3 linked regions of the Homo sapiens genome follow. The protein of the gene in region 1 interacts with the protein of each later gene in a pairwise test. Each region holds a gene or a part of one and is shown in the gene's direction. Other genes may lie near its edges.

Region 1 (7,693 bases):
TGAAACCAGGAGTTCAAAACGTAGCAAGACCCTGTCTCTGCAAAATAAAATAAAAATTAGCTGGGTGTGGTGGTGTGCACCTGTAGTCCCAGCTACTCAGAGGCTGAGGCAGGGGGATCACTGAGCCTAGGAGTTCAAGGCTACGGTGAGCTATGATTGCACCACTGCACTCCAGCCTAGGTCACAGCAAAAGACCCTGTCTCAAAAAAATAGAAAGAAAAAAAATGTGTGGGCCACTGGCAGTAGTCACCGAAAAGTGACCTCAGAAGATACCACAGGAAGTGGACCAAGAAGCACCAGTGTGCTGGGTTCCTAAAATGAACCAGGTCACCTAGAAGCTGGAGGATCAAGACCTCTCCCTCCTCTACTCTTGGCCCAGGGACACAGGCCCCCATCCTTGGAGTCAGGGCCACACAGCTTCCTGGGGAGGCTCTATGGGTAAAAAGGGATCCGTCACTTCCAGCTCCAGGTGGCTCAGGTGTGTCCGCGGGGCTGCCTGGGGCAGAGCCAGTTTGCAGATGCAGGCTTCTGGACACCACCCTGCCCTGTGGAACCAGGATCTTGGAGGGCAGGGCCTGGGGCCGTATATGTAAAGCAGCCTCTGGAGACTTTTCTTCCTTCAGAGATCTGAGAACTGTCTCTAACCCACTCCCATGCCAACTTGGTGTCCAGCTCAGCCCTGTGCAGGGAGGTTGGCAGACAGGTTCACCTGGCATGATGGGCCACAGCCTGCAAGCTCTCCTTGATGAAGCCTTGTGTGTGGCCTGGCTCACAAAGCCCAAGGACAGCCAGGGCTCCCCCTCCTCCTCCCCTCCTTCTTTTCACCCTCCACCCCCTTTCTGCTCCCTCCTCTTCCTCCTCCCCCTCTTTTTCCTTCCTGTTCCCCCACTCCTCTCCTCTTCCTTCCTCTTCTTCCTCCTTCAGCAAGGCCTTGATGGGACGGATGCCAGGAACATTCTGTATATCCTGTCCAAAGGAAAACATGAGGCCTGAAGAGAGAGCCTCAGACAAGAAGGAGGAAATCAAAGAATAACGCCAGGCCCTTGAGAAAGTTCTGCACCATGGTCTAAAGATTCACAGGGAAAATCCTTCTACACAAGCAGCAGAGTTTGAGGAAACATTGGTTTGGATGCAACAAGTGTTAAGAGGCAGATCGGGAGAAGAAATGGTCGGTGGAGCCGGCAGAGGGCGCTGGACACAAACAGAAGCAGAAGGTGCTGCTGAAGTTCAGCTCCGTCCTGCAATGGAGCAAAGCCACAGCTCTGGGAGGAGGCATGAGCTCAAAGGGCAGAGGCCCAGCCAGCCACCGAGACTCCAAAGAAGCCACAGTAAACCAACTGGATGCTGAGGCCAAAGTCACACGAGACCAGGCTGGAAAAGAAGCACATACAAAGGGTTTTCCGAGGCCCAGGCAAAACTTGTTAAGCAAAAATCCATGCCAGGTCACATGTGGCCAAACTAATGAATGACACTGAAAAAGAAAAAGATGCTGGAAGGAAGAAAACAAAAGCATGATCATGACTTATCTCTTGGGAGGTGAAACGCAGAGCTGAAGCACTCAGGCCCCAGCAGAGGGAGCCTCCTTCAGCGTCCTGGACAGTGAACCTTCGTTTGCTATTGATTAAAAGTCTAGCTGGTTCTGTTAGTCCAACTTTTGATCTCCGGGGGTGGGGGAGGGGGTGGGGTTTGGAGTGTATCTTCTCTTTCCAGGGAATAAGATGGTTCTTAGTGACAATCTCCTCATCTGTTTGGATGCCAATCCTAGCGTGTGTCTGCTTGCCTTCCAGGGCGGTCCCTCTCCTGGGCTACCTACCTCAGGACCTGATTGAAACCCCAGTGCTCGTGCAGCTCCACCCTAGTGACAGGCCCTTGATGCTGGCCATCCACAAAAAGAGTAGGTCCCCTTTTCATGGTACATCCTGAAGTGTTTGGCGGAAGTTCCTGTGTCCTTGGGGCTGCTTCTTGGGACCAGTCTAGCTCTGACAGGTCAGATCAGCTAAGGACAAGCAGGTGGTAGACGCCCGCCTCGCCGCCTCCCTCCTGGCACTGCAGTGCCCAGTGGAGTCGAGAGAGAGGGGTAAACTCATGTGAGTTCCTTTGTGGCCAGTTGTTTCTCAGTCCGTGGCCTGAGTCCGTAGCATCTTATGTTTACTGTTGGCTTCAGTGGCGCATGGGAGGAGGGGAGACCAGTTCATCTGTGGCTAGGAAGGTTCTCACCAGGCCAGGGGAGTGCACAGTGCATGTCCTCACCAAGCCCAGCCCTCATAGATGCAAGTGACACTAGCAGAGGTGAAACATGGGATGAAACAGCTCCTGCTGGAAACAGCCTCCTGGTAATCTACAGCAAAAACAGGAGGTTGAAAGCAGTGGCTTTGAAGAAGTGTTCATACCCCTACAGTTTGCAAATGATCCTGGGCCTGAGTGACTCTTGACTTGTCTCTCTCTACTATAAATCCTGTTTGCTCCCCTTTTCCCCTGAATGCTGGCTTTTGCTCTCCTAGTCCTGCAGTCAGGCGGGCAGCCTTTCGACTATTCTCCCATTCGGTTTCGCGCCCGGAACGGAGAGTACATCACGTTGGACACCAGCTGGTCCAGCTTCATCAACCCATGGAGCAGGAAAATCTCCTTCATCATTGGGAGGCACAAAGTCAGGGTGTGAGTGCTCCAAGGGCCCGAGGTGGCTCAGGGGTCTTGGGCGGGGGTCTCGGGCTGTCCTCACCTCCCAGCAACAGATGGCATAGGGAGGGGCTGAGAGGCCAAGACCGAAACCTTGCTTCCTGCCACCAATCTGGAGCCCCAGACTGCTAGGCAGGGGTGACCTGTCCTCTGCCCCCAAGTGGGAGGGACCTCATTCAAGCAGAGTAGGGAGTGGACAGGCAGCAGCCTGGGGGGCTGCAGGGGAGAGGCAGAGGGCCCACCCAGGCAGGCAGCATGTAGTGGCTATACAGTCACGCCAGAGAGGTCCTCCTGTGGGGCCCCATCTAACAAGATGAATTAAAACCACGCAGGGGCCCTTTGAATGAGGACGTGTTTGCAGCCCACCCCTGCACAGAGGAGAAGGCCCTGCACCCCAGCATTCAGGAGCTCACAGAGCAGATCCACCGGCTCCTGCTGCAGGTGGGTGTGGTGCCTGCATGTCCTCCTCCCAGGTAGCAGCCTGAGAGCCCCCTGCAGAGGACATAGGCTCTGAACCCTGGTCCTGGCACACCCACTCAGACAGCTTCATCTGTCATTCTCTGAACATCCCCCAGGGGACAGTTTGGGCATAGACTGTGCTAGTCCGAGACAGTCCATAGTACCCTTGGCTCTCTCCAGCCTTGCATTCGACCTTGTCTGAACTGCAGCCCTGAGTGAGTAGCTGAAGGACGTGTGCAGACCCCGTGCTCTGACACAGGCTGCATAGTTCCAGAGTGACCTCTCAGTGGTGCGGGGGCTCATTCTAATCCAGAGCAGTGGGACTTAAGGGAGGGACATTGTACTCAAGGTCCCTAAAAAAAATCAGGCCCACTGCAGTCAACCCCACACCTGAGTAGGCGCCTGCCTGTCAGTTCCCGGAGACTGTGGAGTGAAGCTGTCATCGCATCTTGTTTGTTTTAAACCCATCCACAGAGGCGTGGCTGGCTGCAGCCATGCGTTGATGAGCGGGTTGGACACATTCCTTTGGTGCCGTCTCCTCGGTGACTGCATGTCTGGGTCGGGGCACCGCGGCTGGAGGCCAGGAGTCTACCTCTGGAGCTGACCCTGGGGTTCAAACCTCAGCTCCCCTGGTCTCTGCCATGTAGCCTTAGGCGGGTCGCCATCCTCTCTGCGAAACAGGGTGTGTTGGCAGGGGGCCACATGCATAGCTCAGCAGCCCTGGCTGTGTCTGTAGCGCTGTCTGCTGTCTCCCCAGCCCGTCCCCCACAGCGGCTCCAGTGGCTACGGGAGTCTGGGCAGCAACGGGTCCCACGAGCACCTTATGAGCCAGACCTCCTCCAGCGACAGCAACGGCCATGAGGACTCACGCCGGAGGAGAGCCGTACGTCTCCTTCCATTCTCCCTGAGAAAATGAGTTTGTGGATGTCCCTCCAGAGTTAAAAAGCACACTCAAGACAACCTTTGGCAGTTAGGAGGGGCTTCCTGATTGCAGCTGTTGCTGCTTCCTTTCTAAACTTTGTCCACTTGGGACTTTTTAATCTCTTAAGAGTTGAAAGAGCTAGAAACCATAGCTAAGTGTTGGTTGAAAATTATTTAAAACAGACAAAACAAGCAAAAGTGAAGATTTAACTAGGATAGAAAGAAGAAAATGTGGGCTGGGTGCGGTGATTCACACCTGTAATCCCAGCACTTTGGAAGGCCGAGGCAGGCGGATCACCTAAGGTCAGGAGTTCAAGAACAGCCTGGGCAAGGTGGTGAAACCCCGTCTCTACTAAAAATACAAAAATTGCCTTGCATGGTGGCGCGCCCCTGTAATCCCAGCTACTCGGGAGGCTGAGGCAGGAGAATGGCTTGAACCCGGGAGGCAGAGGTTGCAGAGAGACAAGATTGCGCCACTGCACTCCAGCCTGGGTGACAGAGCAAGACTCTGTCTTAAAAAAAAAAAAAAATGTAATGTGCCGTTTTGCTTTATTTTTTATTATTCTTTAGGATCATCAAATAGGTTTTATCTAGCTCTACACCTGTCAGATTTCTCATCCACAGTTTCCTTCTGTGTTGCTGAAATTATTTCAGCCATCCTCTGTTCTCACTTTGCCGGACAGACTGAAGGAGGTCTCCTAGAATGAATAATGTGTTCATTTTGTTTTTCTTCAAGGAAATTTGTAAAAATGGTAACAAGACCAAAAATAGAAGTCATTATTCTCATGAATCTGGAGAACAAAAGAAAAAATCCGTTACAGGTAAAAAAAAAAATATTCAACATTTCCTTACTGAAACTAGAGTATGGCCACATGAGAAGAGGGAACCTGGGTTAAATGCTGACTCTGGCTGGCAGGGAGTCTACCTTGTAGCCGTGTCACACCCCCTTCTGCGTTCAGCACAGTCTGCAGCTTCCAAGAGGCGAGAGCAGCCCAGTCCTGCACTCAGCCAGTGCAGGCACTGATGTCCACACTGGGCACCTGATGCCCTGCAGGCCTGGCGGGGTGTGGCTAGGTGTGCAGGCCTGGGGAGCTGTGACCAGTGTGCCTTCCTGCACCCTGGCCTGCCAGCAGGGTGTGCCTGGGAGCCACGGCCTGGGCCGCTTGTTCTTGCTGTACAGAGTAGCTGTATGGCTGTGTGTTTACACTTGCAAACCCTTCACTCACACACACACACAACTGCCGACGGTTTGCCCAGCATCCACATACACTCAAACCAAACCTGTCTGAAGTGGGGAGTACCACCCAGGGGCTGCCGACCCACCCCCACTGCAGCAGCCCTTTCCTACCACAGCGCCACACTTCCCAGGCAGCTTCACAGTGTCATGCGCGGGTTCAGATTCATGCTGCTCCTCTGTCCCGCATGTATTTCTCACACAGCATGCACACAGACACGTGTGCACACATGCATGCATCCCAGTCCCCTCCCCCTGGTGGGCCCTTGCTCATTCTCTGTGCTCAGGCCGAAGCCTCCCGTGGGGAACACTCTGGCCAGACACCGCTAGGACTTTTGGCCTTGGGGATGTGTTGGTGGACATGCTGCCTGCTGGACTCTGTGCTGGGTGTTGGGGACACGCTAATGAGCTGGACACAGCTCTTTGCTTGAGGGTCCCTAGGGGACAGGCATGTGATGAATGTCGTTGGGGCAAGAGTCGAATCTGCAGCACAGTGAGCAGGCAGTTGTCATCATAATTGTTACTAGCAGGGATCACCTTGAAAACACTGGCCTGGCCCAGGAGGAGCATAAAGTACGTGGGCTCTCATTGGCCCTGAAAGTTTAAGAGTTCAAGTGAGAACTGCTGTCTCCCACTGCTGAGTCCCTGACCCCTGGGGACAGCCTAGACCCCAGAGAGAAGCAGACACCAGGCTGGGCAGCAGCTCCCCCCCCAGGTCTCTCTGTGGACGGCACTGTGGTGCTCGTGCCCACAGGGCTGCCAGATGCCAGGCTGTCCCCAGGCTTCCATACTCATGAAGCAGATTCTGAGTCCCCAGCCCTGTCTTCAGGTAGAACGAAAATGCTTTGTAAATACACAGCGTTTTCTGTGGGAGAAAAATGAATGAAAGAACAATTTTGCCATTCCTTCAGAAATGCAAACTAATCCCCCAGCTGAGAAGAAAGCTGTCCCTGCCATGGAAAAGGACAGCCTGGGGGTCAGCTTCCCCGAGGAGTTGGCCTGCAAGAACCAGCCCACCTGCTCCTACCAGCAGATCAGCTGCTTGGACAGCGTCATCAGGTATGCCGGCATTTCCAGCCGAGTCTCCACCATCTCACACACCTTCCCTCCTCTCATGTTGTGTGGCCTCACCAGTGGTTCATGCCTTTCACACAGGTACTTGGAGAGCTGCAATGAGGCTGCCACCCTGAAGAGGAAATGCGAGTTCCCAGCAAACGTCCCAGCGCTAAGGTCCAGTGATAAGCGGAAGGCCACAGTCAGCCCAGGGCCACACGCTGGAGGTATCTAATCTGTGTAGAGCCATGTACATGTGAAATAATGTAAATCCTCTGGAGTAGAGTCAGACGTCCCCATGGCTTCTGTGGACACAGTGTAAGGGTGTAGGCTGTTTTTCAAATGATGAAAGTAGTTCAAAAGTCAGCACCCTTCTTAGGAACTAGAGGCAAAGATGGTTCTGTCAGAGCCTTGGCTTTGAGAACAGGAAGCCAGTGGGGCTACTGGAGGCCTGGGGCCGTCCCCTGACCCCCCTCATGCAGACACACTGCAGGGACATCTCCTGGTCCCCTTCATGCGGCCACACTGAGGGGCCGTCTGCTGACCCCCTCATGCAGCCACACTGGTCTCAAGTTGTCAGTCTAGGGCAGGCCCTCTTTCCAGTGTGTCTCAGAGGGGCCCTTGGCCTGAATGTTAACATGGCCCATAAATCACATTAAATCCCAGGCTGCTTAACACAACGCTGTCAGTGTTGCTGATGTTCACCACCAGGATTAGAAATGGTACCCCGGCTGGGCGCGGTGGCTCACGCCTGTAATCCCAGCACTTTGGGAGGCCGAGGTGGGTGGATCACTTGAGGTCAGGAGTTCAAGACCAGCCTGGCCAACATGGTGAAACCCCATCTCTACTAAAAATACAAAAATTAGCCAGGCATCATGGTGCATGCCTGTAATCCCAGCTACTTGGGAGGCTGAGGCAGGAGAATGGCTTGTACCTGGCAGGCGGAGGTTGCAGTGAGCCAAGATTGCATCACTGCACTCCAGCCTGGGTGACAGAGCGAGACTCCATCTCAAAAAAGAAAAAAGAAAGAAACAGGGTATCCCGGATTATGGTTGGCTCCTGACTGTCGGAAAGCCCCTCCCCACAGGCCTGCAGAAGGGCTGCCTGGCTGCAGGCAAGAGCCCCTCACCAAGTGTGCCCTGCAGCTGCCAAGCTGCTGCGCCTCCCTGCAGAGGCCTCAGGATTTAAGTGTGTAACTGCTCCCATTTCAGAACTTTCTCTTTTCCACTATTCTTCTATGAATAAACATTGGGGACAAATCACCCCATGCCTGGGCCAGAGCATCTGTGGGATGGGATGGGATGGGTTGTGTGCACCCTGGTGTGGAAGCTGTATGGGCACTTGGGTGTC
Region 2 (7,635 bases), on another chromosome or scaffold:
AAAGCCAAGATATGGTTCCGTGAAATATAGGCTTTTCGAGATGTTGAGTTCTAGGTAAACTCTTATTATTATTATTATTTTGCGACAGGGCCTCACTCCCATTTCCCAGGTTAGAGTGCTGTGGCACAATCATGGCTCACTGCAGCCTCAACTTCCAGGGCTCAGGTGATCCTCCCACCTCAGCATCCCCAGCAGCTGGGACTACAGGCACATGTCACCACACCCAGCTAAAGTTTTGTATTTTTAGTAGAGATGGAGTTTTGCCATGGTGCCCAGGATGGTCTTGAACTCAAGGGATTCACCTGCCTCGGCCTCCCAAAGTGCAGGGATTATAGGCGTGGGCCACTGGGCCTGTAAACTCCTATTCTTAAATGAAGCAGCAGGTCCGACTATACTTACTGTGCCATACACCCTGCTGCTCAGACGACAACGCCACCACAGAAAACTGGCCCAGGACCTAACCTGCCCTTCCTCTTCCTTGGGTTTTTTCTGTTGGTAACTACTGTTCCCTTTTCTCTCCACACCTTTTACACTCTGGAATTGTTGTCCTAGACTCAAGCTTTTTGTATTCACGTTGGAGGAAACTGAATATCAAGGGATCTCTGTGATGGCAGCAATAAAGTTGAGCAGATTTTTAAAAATTTTCCTTCCTAAAAAGACTTTCTTCAAAAACGGTTTTGCATTGACTTTAAAAGGACAGAATATTTTTTCCTGAGAAAGAGCTGGGGCATGTTGTCTTGGAGGTCATATCAGCATCAAATAGCCTAGACTTTCTCCAGACATTAAAGGCTGCATAGGTCTGTGTAGAACCTCTGGCTGTCCATGGGAGATTCTTAGCGAACTGTCACTTGGAGAAAAGAATGATTATGATTGAAGGACATAAACGAGAAAGGAAGCTATGAACAAATAATTTTGGGGCAAGTGGAGAAAATGACGGCTTGATCTAGGAGCAGTATGGTTCCCACATTTAATTAGGATTCAAGAAAGAAACGATTTACATTTATCTTTCTTTTCCAAAGCCCCCTAATCTTATATCTCATTGCAGATGAGTAGGATGAATGATGAATGTGTGATATCAGCAGAGGTTTCGTCAACTGTGGGGCACAATATAACATTATTTCGAGTTAGGCAATTTTACTTCATACCAGGAATATTACTTTATGCACTGTTTTTAATATTTGTTTGAAGAATATCCGAATACAGAATTTCTTTACCCATACTGAATTTGTGTGTGTTTACAAGGTTTTTGTGTTTCGCATCAGTGGAAATAAAAGATTGACGTTGCTACCCACTCAACCAGGCATTTTCAGACCACAAATCAGGATGAGAAAGGACTGCTAAACGCAAAGAATGCAGAAATAAAGATTACCCAGAGGTGGCGCTGTGGTAAAAGTACACCTGAATTTTGATTACAGTGAATGTATTTACTCCCTACCTCTCAGAAGAGAGACTGTTAGCCATTATCGCTTTTGTATTTCTATAAACACACATCAGCAAATAAAGCTCTCTGGTAATACACTCCCATCCACTCCAATCTACCAGGACATGTTTAAAGACCTCACTCCGCACAGAATTAGAGCTGAAGCACTAAAACCACCTCCTAAAATGTAGGCCCTGTAGCCTAGAGCTCTGTTATTCAAAGTTTTATCCATCTCACTCTCCTTCCTTCCACAAACACCACCGGGATCCTCTGGATAATCACTCAATGATAGCTGAACATGTGTCTGGTTAAATTTCTAACATTTCCTTCAGGAATTAAGATTTCGTTTTAGTGCATATTCTTCAGGAAAAATCCTGAAAAGTACCACAATTCGTTATACATCTATGCATTATGTGCTCTATCTAAGAAAATCATTTTTAAAAAGAAAAAATAAAGACCATTTGGCTTAATTCTCTCATTTGTGGATGAGAAAATTAAGGCCCAGAGACGGAAATTTACTTGCACATGACAAATCATAACTTAATTGTAGCCCACTAAGATCTTGTGTCATCTCCTTTTATTATAAATTATTTAAAAAGTGAAAATGAACCAGGGGATTCAAATGTATTATTTGTTTATGGTGTTCCTCTCCTCATCTGGTTTAATTGAGTTTTCTTGACTAACCTTCAAGCAGCATTACATCTTTTCTAAGTTGGTCCTCTTTAATCATGCCCATCTGTAGCTGTTTTCTGTGTAGGACATTTTAATTACTATTATAGTTTTAATGACTTTTTTTTAAAAAAAGTTTTTTATATGTGCACAAGGTGAATTCATCATAGCAGTGCAACTTTAAATACAAATCAATAAAATTAATTCATTTAATTTTAAGGTGCTAGAATTAAAAAATGAGTATTTGAATTGATATTTAAAATGCCCTCTACCTGACTGTATGGGCAATAATTATTCTTTCTTATGCAGCCTTATTAATTTTGATGGTTTGAAAGACAGAAATCCCCCAAATAGACACTAAAACCCTAAATGTTCAACATCTGCATTGTCTCGCCAGATTCTCCTTCAGGTTCCTTTCCTCAATCTAGCAGTACTGTGTGTAACACAATATGAAAACTTGCCCCACAAGGCTGGTTTTACTTAATGATACTTAGCAGAAGGGCTTTGCACTTTCATGATAATTTCCACCAGAAAAATCTCTCTGGAACTTACTAACAATAATCAGGCCTAATATTAGCCTCAGTCTGGAGATTTATTTAACCTATTTGGCAGAGTAGATAAAGTCGAATGCCTAGGTATTCAAGCATCTAGGCTGTGCTTCGGCCTTGGAAAAAGACTCTCAGGCTAGCACCCTAAAAGCATTCCTCAAAACTTGATTTATACTAGAAGTGACATTTCTTACTCTCTAGAGGCTGTGAGATTGCAAATCTTGCAATTACTTCCATTGCTTTTGGGGGCTGTGAGAATTTCCGCCTCTCATCCTCCACAGTGAGGAGGGTAGTCGGGAAAGGCTTTCTCCCTTAAGTTTTCGTCAACTTTGAAAATAAGGACTGTGCTCCCTACATCACCAGCAATTGACAAGGATCCAGGAAATGCCTGCTAGGCACTTTCAAACTCGGAAAAATGGGAGTATGAGGGAGGCTAAGTAGGCAGTATTTAGCTAGCAACTATTATTTCCTTTATGTTTCTACCTTGTTAACTAAGCTTCCACTACGGTTCATAAATCTCCAATATCGTGAATTAAAGAAACAACAACAAAAATCCTCTTCTGTGTGCTTGTGCGTGAGGGGATAGAAGTCCACTGCCCTAAGATGCAGGACTTATCTTCCCAAACAGGAAGAGACCCATTTCTGAGAAAGATGGTAAGTTTCCTAAGGGTCTCCTCTCAGATAGAGGGGATGGCAGTCCCCGAGGGGCGAGCGGGCGCGGGTCCTCAGGGTCCCCGTGCGCTGAGAAGGCAGGTGAGGCCCCGCCCTGCGTCTCGACTCCGGATCCCGGGTCGCGAAGGGCAGCCCAAGCGGGTCCCCGGCCCCAGGCGCCCGGGTCACTTCACCCCACCTGATTCGGGCCCTTCCCTTCTCCTCTGTCGGCCAGCTCTGCCGCCTCGCTCTCTCTCCCGCCCCCCGAGTCTCGTTTCAGTCATCCCTTTGTCCTTCCCCGGATTGGCAGGTTTTATTATTCCGCCTGAACAATCCGGCCGCCCAGTGGCTGAGGGTCGCTGACGTCGGAGGCAGAGCCGGGGAGTAGTTGGGATTTTGCTCTGTCAGTAACACATGTGTAAGAGCCGCGGAGGGAGCGAGCGAGCCGGCTAGAGGCCAGCGCCGCCGCCGCCGCCGCCTCCGAGCCGGGCAGCAACAGCCCCGGCAGCGGCGCAGGCTCCAGCGCGCCGGGCCCGGCCGGCCGCAGCCCCCGACGCCTGGGTGCGCCTGCCTGCCGGCCTCCGCACCGTCCGCCGCCGCTCCCGGGGCTGTTGTGTCTGCGACTGCTCCCGGCCGGAGGTGCAGGGAGCTCAGCCGAGCCGCCGCTGCCATCCCGGAGCGAGCAAGCGAGCGAGCGCGCGGGAGGGAGGAAGGCGGCGGCGGAGGAGGAGGAGGAGCGGGAGGAGCGCGGGCGGGGGCGGGGGCCCCCGGGCGGGGGAATATACAAAGTGAAGCCACATTGCCAAACTTGCAGCAGCGATTGCAGCAGTTGCTGCCGCTGCGCCGCGCCTGAAGCCGCGCCGCGCGGGCCGAGGGCTCCTGCAGCTGCTCGCGCGCAGTCGGAGGCGGAGAAGGACGAAGACTGAGACTGACACTTCTGCTCCCGGCCGCCCGGCACTTACGCGGGGGCCCCCCAACCCGCCCCAGAGCAACGCGATTTAAAAAAAAAAAAAAAGCCGCCCTTAGCCCCCTCCTCCCCTTTCCTGCTTCTGCGAGAACTCCCTCCCTCCCTCCAGCTCCGCCAGCCCAGGCGCCCCTTCCCTGGAAGCCGAGCGGCTTCGCTCGCATTTCACCGCCGCCGCCTCTCGCAATATTGCAATATAGGGGAAAAGCAGGTAAGGGGGCGGGTGGAGAGCCGCGGGCCGGGAGGTGGGAGAGGGAGGGAGGGGGTCGATTCGGGCCAGGGCTGTTTTCTTTGGCTTCCTTCCCCTGACCGTCCCAAATTGCAAGTAAACAATACGTCGGCTTAGATAAAGCGCGAGTCTGAAACTACCGAGGCCGGCCTGCGAGCTAGCGCGGAGGGCAGCCCCGGGCCGCCAGCTTTGTAGCGGTTCCTGCTTACAAAAGGGCTCTTCTTGGAAACGGGGCTGGTGGGGACCGTAGAGGGGGTGGGGATATTTCTAGTTCATAAGGGAAAGGCAAGGGGTGCTTAGATGAGGATTTTAAGTATGAGAAGTAGTGTGTTTGGGGGGGTGGGGGTGGGGATAGTCACGATACCCCCCCTCCCTTCTAGTAAACACTATTTTTGAAACAGTGGCAGGAAGGATCTAAGTGAGCAGGATTCGGTATTGCTGGTTCTTTTAAAAAAATTCTTCTTGGCTTATAAGTCTTTTGTTCCAATCCAGGAGAAATACGGTGAATCACCTAATTAAAATCAAGACATGAATTAAGCATCCATTTTTGTACTACAAATTGCCAGCGTTACGTTTGTCCCTCCCTTGGTCTCCATTAAAAAACACCAGAGACGTTGTTAAAGGGGGGCAGATTTTGCCTCTAGCTGCCAGTTCTGCTTTCTATTTCACTGACTATCCCAGGACCTAAATTGCTTGGCTATGTAATTACTAGAGTATAAGCCTATTTAACTTAAAAGCTTTCTTTTTTTTTTTTTTTTTTCCAACTCTAAATGAAACTTGATGAGGGCCCGTCCTTAGTTATCAGGGGAGTCAGTTTCTGGTCAGTCTTCTTGATTCATCTCTTTTAGATTTAATCAGCATTAAGGTATTGCTTGTCCTTAAGAGCTTTAGCTAATGGGGTTACTGGATGCTTTTCTCAGTGTAATGTTTCCTTTTCAAAAAAAAAATACATATATATTTACCTCTCACTAAAGATGGGGGCGGGGAAGAGCTTGGAATCTCCTCCCTCACTCTCCTTTTAAAAAGGAATTCGGAGCGATTAAAACGTTGGGGGAAACAGTTTAAAGATCTAGGGCAGGAAATGCAGATTCATTTGGGTTAGGGCTGAAATTGTAACAAAAAGCAATTCCTCGAGTAAATGCATCAGATAAATCAATTTACATAAAGGTATGATGCATTCGGATAAATGCAATGCTAATGGGTTTTAGAGTGGTCCTGTTTCCAAAGTCTCAGGGTTTTGTTACAGCTTAATTGGTGCAGTTCTTATTCTGGTTTATTGTGCGGTCACTGGACACACGTTCCGGGACTCTTTCGGAGGAAATGTGTTTAAAATCGGCCTATTTAAGGAACCCGAGTCCTTGTTTCGTTCCTTCCTCGTTTTTTTTGCAGCAGCCAAGTTGGGCCGGGTACAGGCAAAGTTCGCCTTCTTCTGAGGTATCAGCTGAATGTCTTGAGCAGATAGCCGGGAGCCTCAGGGGGAGCCCACACTCTCAGCTTACAGAGGACAAAGACAATACAGGCTGCTTAATTGGCAGTAAATAACTTGATCTTTTTACAGAATAAGTGACTAGAGGAACACTAGGACTTTATTGGACTCGGGATTGAAGGCAACAAATTAATCGGTTTAGGCTAAGCTTTATAAATTGATTCCTATATTATATCCCAGTTGCATCTCTTGTGGCATTCATTAGAGTGGGGAATTCTTTTTTAAAGCAGTTTTTGGTGACAGCAGGACGGGCTCGAATTTAACTTGTGCATCCCTTAATGGTGCCTTCTCGCACATTATCTGTAACGCCGCCCGCCCCCCCCCCCCCCCCGCCCTTTGGAGGAACAAAGCTTTAGCATTTAAATTGCTGATCAAGGGCAGATTAGTGAGACCAAAGTGGAGAGTGTTTGTATAGGAAGTTAACAGGCATCCTAAAGTTCAATGATCTATTATTCTTGCCTGTGTCCTGAAAACCCAGAGAAAACACTCATTGATCTTCAAAATGAAATGAGATTTGGAACAATAATGGGAGATGGCGGTCACCACAATGGCATGTGAAAGGTGCTGCTTAAAATACGAAAAACCAGTTTCGCAACTTTACACACTGCACCCACCCCTCCCGTCACCTTGCCTTCCCTCCCATCACCACGCTCTCCGTCTCCCGTCTGCCGGTCCCTCCCTCGTTCCCTTTCGGAAAACCGAACTATTTCCAACTTGTGAACTGCAGCTGCACTTCCCGGGGCAGAACCCGGGAGGGAACGAGGCTCCGGCGGGGCCGCCGCCTCCCCACTCCTCTCGGCTCTGTCCCGGGGCCCGGCGGGGGCTGGGGAGGGGCCGGGCGCGGCGGTGGGTGGGTTTGACCCTCATTTGCTGGAGGCGGGCGGCGGAGGAGGGGAGGAGGGGGCAGTGGGCGGAGGCGGGGGCTGGGAGGAGGTGCCGCGAGGGGTGGAGCGCGCAGCGGAGCCTGCTCTCGGAGTTTTGACAGTACCGGAGCTGAAATTGTCAGCGGCGGCAAGCGCAGGAAAGTTGAGAGGAGCTCGTGGCCCCAGAACAAAGCTTGAGAAAAGTAAACAGGCGGCTGCTGCCGGCGAGCCTCCCTTCTTCCCTCTCCCCCTCAGCCTCCTTCCCGCCCTTGCCCTGCTGTTTCCTTCCAGCAGCTCCGCGGGGAGGAGGGGAATGGGCTTGCTCTCTCTCCGGCGATTACTAACTTTTGCATCGCCCCTGTTTTGTCTTTCTCTCCCTGTCCCCTTCCCGCCCTCTGCAGACCATGGTGAATCCGGGCAGCAGCTCGCAGCCGCCCCCGGTGACGGCCGGCTCCCTCTCCTGGAAGCGGTGCGCAGGCTGCGGGGGCAAGATTGCGGACCGCTTTCTGCTCTATGCCATGGACAGCTATTGGCACAGCCGGTGCCTCAAGTGCTCCTGCTGCCAGGCGCAGCTGGGCGACATCGGCACGTCCTGTTACACCAAAAGTGGCATGATCCTTTGCAGAAATGACTACATTAGGTAAGACTTTGCTGTCTTTCCTGGAGATGGGGGGAAGAGCAATGGCAAGGCCAAAGGTTAACAGGGTTGTGAGGAAAGGAGTAGGCGTCTACGGGGAGTATGCAGCCTTCACCTCAAAAATCTTCTAGTTGGCGGAATTTAAGGGGTTCAGGAAGCATGTGTTAG
Region 3 (7,693 bases), on another chromosome or scaffold:
CCAAATGGGCGGAAGGCCGGACAGGCTTTCCATGGATTGATGCCATCATGACACAGCTTCGTCAGGAGGGTTGGATTCATCATCTAGCCAGGCATGCAGTTGCTTGCTTCCTGACACGAGGGGACCTGTGGATTAGTTGGGAAGAAGGAATGAAGGTAAGTGTTCTAACTGATATAGCATGCCTTATTTTGAAGGAATCCTTACCTTAATAAAACAAATCCTAGAAGTTGTCTGTTTATAGATTCATTTATGGTGTAGTTTTTCAGTGGATAAAACATTTAATTCCCCAAATACGGGGACACTTTCAGAGAAAAATGGTATAATCAGACAAGCAAAAAGGTGAAAACTGGTTAAATTGATTAACCTAAAGTCATTTTAATGGTTAAACCAGCCTAGCCACTAAGAGAACTGTAAAATTTAACACTGAATTTGTTGATAGATATATTTATAGGTGATATTTCTATCACGAAAAGAATTCACTAAAGAGTTCCTAGAGATAGTGAATTCATATTATAAATTTTAAAATATAAATCATTTCACCTCACTTCTCAGCTTTTTAGTAATACTTCTATTATGTAAAGAGAAGCATACTACATTTTGTGACGACATCTTGTGGATTACACGTAATAAGACTTAGGTACTTTTTTTTTTTTTTTTTTTTTGAGACGGAGTCTCTCACTCTGTAGCCCAGGCCGGGGTGCAATGACGTGATCTCAGCTCACTGCAACCTACGCCTTCCAGGTTCAAGTGATTCTCCTGCCTCAACCTCCCGAGTAGCTGGGATTACAGGTGCCCACCACTGTGCCCAGCTAATTTTGCATTTTTAGTAGAGAGAGGGTTTTACCATATTGCCCAGGCTGGTCTTGAACTCCTGACCTCAAATGATCCCCCTGCCTCAGCCTCCCAAAGTGCTGGGATTACACGCATGAGCCACCGTGCCCGGCCATTACGTACATTTTTTACCTTTCTGGCAATACCATACATTTGCCCCATCCAAGGACCATTTCTGAGCTTGTGTGTGTGTGTGTGTGTGTGTGTGTGTGTGTTTAATCTCTTATATTTCCTAGTACACCGTTGTATACAAAGACAATATATAACATACTTAATGAATATATATAAAAATCATTTATTTTAATTCTATTTTCTTTCTGATCAAGGAATTCGAAATTAAACTATGTAATGCTAGTATATATTTTTAAGTGAATTTATATTTGAGTATGCTTCCTTTATTTAGGCTAGAATATGAAGCTAAGTTTTTGTTGGTGTTTTATGTAATAGCATTTTTGCTTTCTTGAAAGTGGTTGACTGCTTTTCCTGTGTCTACTAATAATATCCTTTTAAATCCACATCCTTTTAAATCAGTGATTTGAATATTTTTTTTACCTTCCATTCTCCCAGTAACACTGCAGAGGTTGGAAAAGTAAATTCTCTTCAGAAGCATACTATATTACCACTATGTTTCTTTCTCTGGAAGAGCTCATTATAGAACAGAACATAGGGAAGCTAACTTTGGAATGTTTAATTTTACAATTCTGTGCTAGATTTTCTTTGCCTTGACTTTGGCTCTACTGTGACCTTGAAAATGCTTGCTTTGCGAATTATGTGTGTGCAAACTAATTGGTTACTGTTACTTCTGAAGGTATTTGAAGAATTATTGCTTGATGCAGATTGGAGCATAAATGCTGGAAGTTGGATGTGGCTGTCTTGTAGTTCCTTTTTTCAACAGTTTTTTCACTGCTATTGCCCTGTTGGTTTTGGTAGGAGAACAGATCCCAATGGAGACTATATCAGGTAAATCAAGGGTGATTACTACTCAGTTTGGAATAGTTAATTCAAGAAGAGCTTTTCATGTTTAATCAATGCTTAAAGTATTCCCCACTCATGATGGGCAGCAGAGATGAGAAGGGTAAACAGATCATTTAAATGGTCTTGATTTGATTTTGGTCTGTCATAGCTAGTAGTTATAGTTTGCTTAGAGTGCATTTTATTAGTAATCTTTCTTTTTTCTCCCAAAGGCGTTATTTGCCTGTCCTAAGAGGCTTCCCTGCAAAATATATCTATGATCCCTGGAATGCACCAGAAGGTATCCAAAAGGTAGCCAAATGTTTGATAGGAGTTAATTATCCTAAACCAATGGTGAACCATGCTGAGGCAAGCCGTTTGAATATCGAAAGGATGAAACAGATCTATCAGCAGCTTTCACGATATAGAGGACTAGGTATGTTAAGAACTGTCTTTGTTTCTTTGGCAGCTGTTTATGTACTTATCTTTGAATTTTATCTTGATCATAATTTAAAAGAAAATTTTTTTGTCCTTTAGGTCTTCTGGCATCAGTACCTTCTAATCCTAATGGGAATGGAGGCTTCATGGGATATTCTGCAGAAAATATCCCAGGTTGTAGCAGCAGTGGAAGTAAGTGAAAAGGAAATTTCTGCACTTAGTAACATGAAGAGGTTATTAAACAAATATATTTGTTATTGATCCTCACTAACATATTTTATAAAAATCTGTCTTTGAAATTAGCTTAATAGATTCTTTGTATGCATGCATACATGTGCACCCAGACACATCTCTTCACTCCATTGATGACATTTTAGAGATGGAAAATATCATTACGTATAATAGATACTGGGTCAAGTTAAAGCTCTTGCAAACTGAGGAGAGCAATTTTAAGGATAAAATGAAACTCAAATGTCATATTTTCAGAATGCTTATTATTTTTTACTCCTTAGGTGTATGGCAACTATAAGGTAATTAGTTAAGAAAGTCAGTGGCCCTGTGAACATGGCCAAAAGATTTATTGTACACATGCATAGAGCCCTCTAGTCTTTTTGCACATAAGTTTTTCTTATAAAGTCTGGTCTGTAGTAGTTTTCTGTATGATACAAATTTAGTGACCATGTAAATTCTTATGTGTGATATTAATAATTTCAGGAACTCAGTATGTGTTAGAAATTTGAACCATCATATTAGTTTTTGGCTTTGACCAAAAATAGCATGAAGCTCAGTAATTTGATTAAAAAATAGGACAGCATCAGTGAGAATGGTGATTATTAAAAAGTCAAGAAACAACAGATGCTGGTGAGGATGCAGAGAAAAAGGAAGGCTTTTACATTGTTGATGGGATTGTAAATTAGTTCAACCATTGTGGAAGAGAGTGTGGTGATTCCTCAAAGATCTAGAAGCAGGAATACCATTTGACTGAGCAATCCCATTACTGGGTATATACCCAAAGGAATATAAATCATTCTGTTATAAAGATACATGCACACGTATGTTCATTGCAGCACTATTCACATTAGCAAAGACGTGGAATCAACCTAAATGCCAGTCGATGATAGACTAGATAAAGAAAATGTGGTACATATGTACCATGAAATACTATGCAGCCATAAAAAGGAACGAGATCATGTTCTTTGCAGGGACATGATGGAGCTTGTAGCCATTATCCTCAGCAAACTAAGGCAGGAACAGAAAACCAAACACCTCATGTTCTTGCTTGTAAGTGGAAGTAGAATGATGAGAACACATGGATACATGCGGAGAACAACACATACTGGGGCCAGGTGCAGTAGCTCACACTTGTAATCCCAGCACTTTGGGAGGCCGAGGTGGGTGGATCACCTGAGGTTGGGAGTTTGAGACCAGCCCCTGACCAACATGGAGAAACCCCCGTCTCTACTAAAAAGACAAAATTGGCCGGGCGTGGTAGCGCATGCCTGTAATCCCAGCTACTTGGGAGGCTGAGGCAGGAGAATCACTTGAACCCAGGAGGCAGAGGTTGTGGTGAGCTGAGATCGCGCCATTGCACTCCAGCCTGGATAACAAGAGCAAAACTCCATCTCAAAAACAAAAAACAACAAAACACACATGCTGGGGTCTGTTGGGGGGGCAGGGGCAGGGAGAGCATTAGGAAGAATAGCTAATGCATGCTGGTCTTAATACCTAGGTGATGGGTTGATCTGTGCAGCAAACCCCCATGGCACATGTTTGCCTATGTAACAAACCTGCACATCCTGCACATGTACCCCAGAACTTAAAATAAAAATTGAAGGGAAAAAAAAGAAAAAAGAAATCTATACATGTGATAAAAGAGCATAAAATCATACAAACACTTTGTATCAATGTCAATACCTGGTTATATTGTTGTACTGTAGTTTCATAAGATGTCACTAAGAAGATAGGGAAACAGGACCTCTTTGTACTAACTTTACAACTGTTTGTGAATCTATATTTTTCAAAATAAAAAAAACAGGATAAAAACAGGGTAGCATTTGAGGAATGCTTTTTTAAGTCAGATGTTCTAAGTTGATATTAAGAATAAAACCTTTTAAAAACTGAACCTTTTTGAATTCAGAAATGTCCTGCATCCTCATGAAAACAGCATGTATTTTATCCTCCAAGAATTAGTTTTGGGAGAAGGGGACAAAAGCACTCACATTTTGACTGCCTACCTTTGCCCAGTAGATAGTAAGGGATTTTTGCATACTTTCTCACAGTAACCTGGGGAGGAGGTAGTGGGATCCTCATTTTATATTTGGGGAAATAATCCTAGAAAGATTAGGTAACTTAACCAAGATCCCACAGTTAGTAAGTAGTTGAGCTAAGATTCAGATCCAAGTCTGACTAGCTCCAAAGCTTGTACTTCTTCCTGCATCATTGGGCCTCCTCTGCAAATGGAATGCCATAAGTGTTTACAAGAGAAAATATTTTATTCCTGGAATGTGATCCACCCAGCAGTCGACAGTTGCCAGTGATGGCAGTATACTTGAGAAATGTTCCTTCTCAGTATCTCCTACAATTTGAATAAACTTCCACAAGATAATCATTTCAAAAGTTCTTTCAGATCTCTTGTTCAGTTCACAGCCTGCCTTGTCAGCCCACACATGAGTGAGGGACAGAAGCTCTGTGAAGCACTAAGATAACAGGCAGGTAGCAATGGGCTAGGAACCAAGGGTTGGGCTAATACACAATGATGGCACAGACTGCTTCTTAGACCACTCAAACCTGTGTCGTTTATTTGGAATTATCTTCAAAAGCTAATCATAGTAGCAGGTTAAATTGGGACAATTTTGCTTCACAAATGTATATAGGGTAGTTTATTATATAATAGAAGAATTAATAAATCTTGAAATTATTTTAATCATGTAAATATTTGCCTGTAACATAGTTTGTAGCCAGCTTCTTGGAGGCTTTCAAAAGACATGAGACATGAAAAGCTAAGTAGAACTTAAGTATAAATGGGGGTGTGGAGGGAAAACAAAAACAAATGAAAAAGTGATAAATTATAAGATGCTGCCTCCATGTGCAATATGAGAAAAGGGAGAGATTATTGAGAGCTGAAGGGACTAGAGAAACTTTCTTGAAAGGTGGCAGGATTGAGTAGCATTTGGGTAGTCAGATGAAGGAAAAAAACATTTTAGACCTGGAAATGGGAAATTGTGAAAAGACACGGCTTGGGCTATGCTATTAATATTAAACATTTCTCCTCTCAGGTTTCTGCCCCATTTGAAAGGACTTAAATGCTTCTAAAGCATATCCTTTTATGCCTTACACTTATCCTGTCTGTAGGCTTTTATAGTACCTTACAAGGCATGTCAAAGGGCAAAATTCTTTTACTTGTCTTAGTTTTTTGTTTGTTTGTTTTTGTTTGTTTTTTTAATGACTGTGGAACATTCTTAATCTCTGCAACACAAATTGCATTTTTCTCTGCTCATCTTTGTATTTGTGTGTGTGTGCACATGTGCTCAGGAAAGGAATAAACTATACATAGAAGTCTTACTTTTGTTCTTATAATAAAACAGACTGTAATATGTTTACTACTGTAGCAATATGTTTTAGTTTTTATTTAACTTTTAGGTTTTTTTATTGTAAAATATCAGTTCATCGGCATTATTAGTCATTAGGGAAATGCAAATTAAAACAACTATGGGATAGTACTTCATACTCACTTAGGGTGAGCAACTGCCACTGATTGCCTGGGATTGAAGTTAATTAAAACGAAAGTAAGTGCACAGTCTTGTTCAGGCCATAAGGTGTTGACCTATCCACCTGCTCGTGGATAGGTCCAGAATGCTCATATTTTTCCATAAACTGGACACACTGACAGAAATGTTTCCCTAAAACATACTTCTCTGTTCTAGCCAACCTATTCTCCTATAATAGTGTTTGTTTTTAGAAGGGTTGATAGGATTGCTTAGGCTAGGTAACTGCCACATAGTCTGTGTCTTCTGCTTGTCGTATGATTTGAATTGTTTAACTCATCGGGCAGGCCCTTATTCCCTTATCCTCAAGGAAATATGTTTGGAGGAGCTCTGAAGGAAAAGCGTGGGAAAAGGGACAAGAGTGAGGGAGGAATGTCTATCTCACTCTTGCCCCTATGTTTTACCTTCATGGTCAAGTTTCAAATTGTCATCTAGTAAGGAAATGTTTTTTAGAAAATGATCATCAATGATTTTTCCTTTGAGCTGTCAACACTTCTGTGAGCCTAAATTTAAGTTTTCCTGGTTTGAGCATGTGATTTTTGGTTCATAGGAAGATTGAGATTTAGTCTTAAAAGCATATAAATGACCTTAAGTACAAGCGCTAAAAGTTGGATTTGTAGACTTAATAATACATACATCTTGGATTTGATTTTAAGTAATTTTACTGTGTTTTAAATACTAACAGGTTGCTCTCAAGGGAGTGGTATTTTACACTATGCTCATGGCGACAGTCAGCAAACTCACCTGTTGAAGCAAGGTAAGAATGAAGCATTGGAGCATACTGTTCTTTTTCCTTTTCCTATCTTAAACATACATTTTTTAAATGTGCAGGAAGAAGCTCCATGGGCACTGGTCTCAGTGGTGGGAAACGTCCTAGTCAGGAAGAGGACACACAGAGTATTGGTCCTAAAGTCCAGAGACAGAGCACTAATTAGGTAAATATTTTAGAGCTGTATTTCTTGCTTTAGAAGAGTATATAATTAACATAAATTAAGATAATTTCAAAAATGGAGCAAATCTCTATTTTCAAACCAGAAAATCTTGAGGCATTAATTTTTAAGCAATTTTTACAAACTCAGTTAATTTTTGGTCAAGAGACATGCATCTGTACTGGAGAAATTGTTGCACCAGTTTTATATTCATCTGAACCAATGCTCTTTAAATTAGAGATGTTTATGATTTTGTGGTCAAGTTTTTTCTTAGAAAAAGACAACTTTTTTATTTCCTTACTATGTAACTATGAGTCTAAAACAATTAAAGTGGCCTGTTTATTTTAGTGACATTAATATAATCTTTTTATGAACTTTCCCCTAAATCTTTGCCTCTTAAATGTTGATAAATTTCTTTTATCTGTTATGATGCTTCTAAAATCTAAATTATTTCCAATTTGGGAATAGTTCAAAATTTTTTAAAATGCTGGCCCTTATTAGAAGTATCAGAAAGCCTTGCCTGCATTCAATTTAATTGGATTTGGGATGTCATTTTGTGATTTAAATTAATATGAAAAATATTTATACGTTGGATTTGCCAGTTTTTAAAAATTTTCTGTTTCTTCAGTTTCTAACACTGTTTACATTTTTTATTGCTTAGTTTTTTTATGTCAACCTAATTAGACTATAAGTATCTTGAAGATAAGGTCAATAAACACTCATCACATTTTTGTCATTGAATTATTTGCAATCAAGCTTTACCTAGTTTTTTTTTCCCCC

The links. The genes of interacting proteins can lie anywhere in the genome.
Region 2: the proteins of PER2 (region 1) and LMO4 interact in binary tests that used the Homo sapiens proteins (3 or more experiments, as listed by UniProt).
Region 3: the proteins of PER2 (region 1) and CRY1 interact in a two-hybrid assay, tested with the Homo sapiens proteins (5 studies listed by BioGRID, with this or other methods).

Annotation. Positions count from the first base shown.
Region 1 is NC_000002.12:238,257,153-238,264,845, reverse strand, and holds part of PER2 (period circadian protein homolog 2), read left to right. Parts: intron 1-1,787; coding exon 1,788-1,894; intron 1,895-2,501; coding exon 2,502-2,655; intron 2,656-3,008; coding exon 3,009-3,117; intron 3,118-3,892; coding exon 3,893-4,018; intron 4,019-4,792; coding exon 4,793-4,877; intron 4,878-6,201; coding exon 6,202-6,349; intron 6,350-6,445; coding exon 6,446-6,570; intron 6,571-7,693. UniProt on the Homo sapiens protein: Transcriptional repressor which forms a core component of the circadian clock.
Region 2 is NC_000001.11:87,324,782-87,332,416, forward strand, and holds the start of LMO4 (LIM domain transcription factor LMO4), read left to right. Parts: upstream 1-4,098; 5' UTR 4,099-4,463; intron 4,464-6,445; exon of another isoform or gene 6,446-7,033; intron 7,034-7,231; 5' UTR 7,232-7,234; coding exon 7,235-7,470; intron 7,471-7,635. UniProt on the Homo sapiens protein: Transcription cofactor. Plays a role in establishing motor neuron identity, in concert with MNX1, acting, at least in part, to disrupt LDB1-LHX3 complexes thereby negatively modulating interneuron genes in motor neurons.
Region 3 is NC_000012.12:106,992,013-106,999,705, reverse strand, and holds part of CRY1 (cryptochrome-1), read left to right. Parts: coding exon 1-155; intron 156-1,639; coding exon 1,640-1,791; intron 1,792-2,015; coding exon 2,016-2,218; intron 2,219-2,319; coding exon 2,320-2,412; intron 2,413-6,669; coding exon 6,670-6,741; intron 6,742-6,815; coding exon 6,816-6,919; exon of another isoform or gene 6,920-7,693.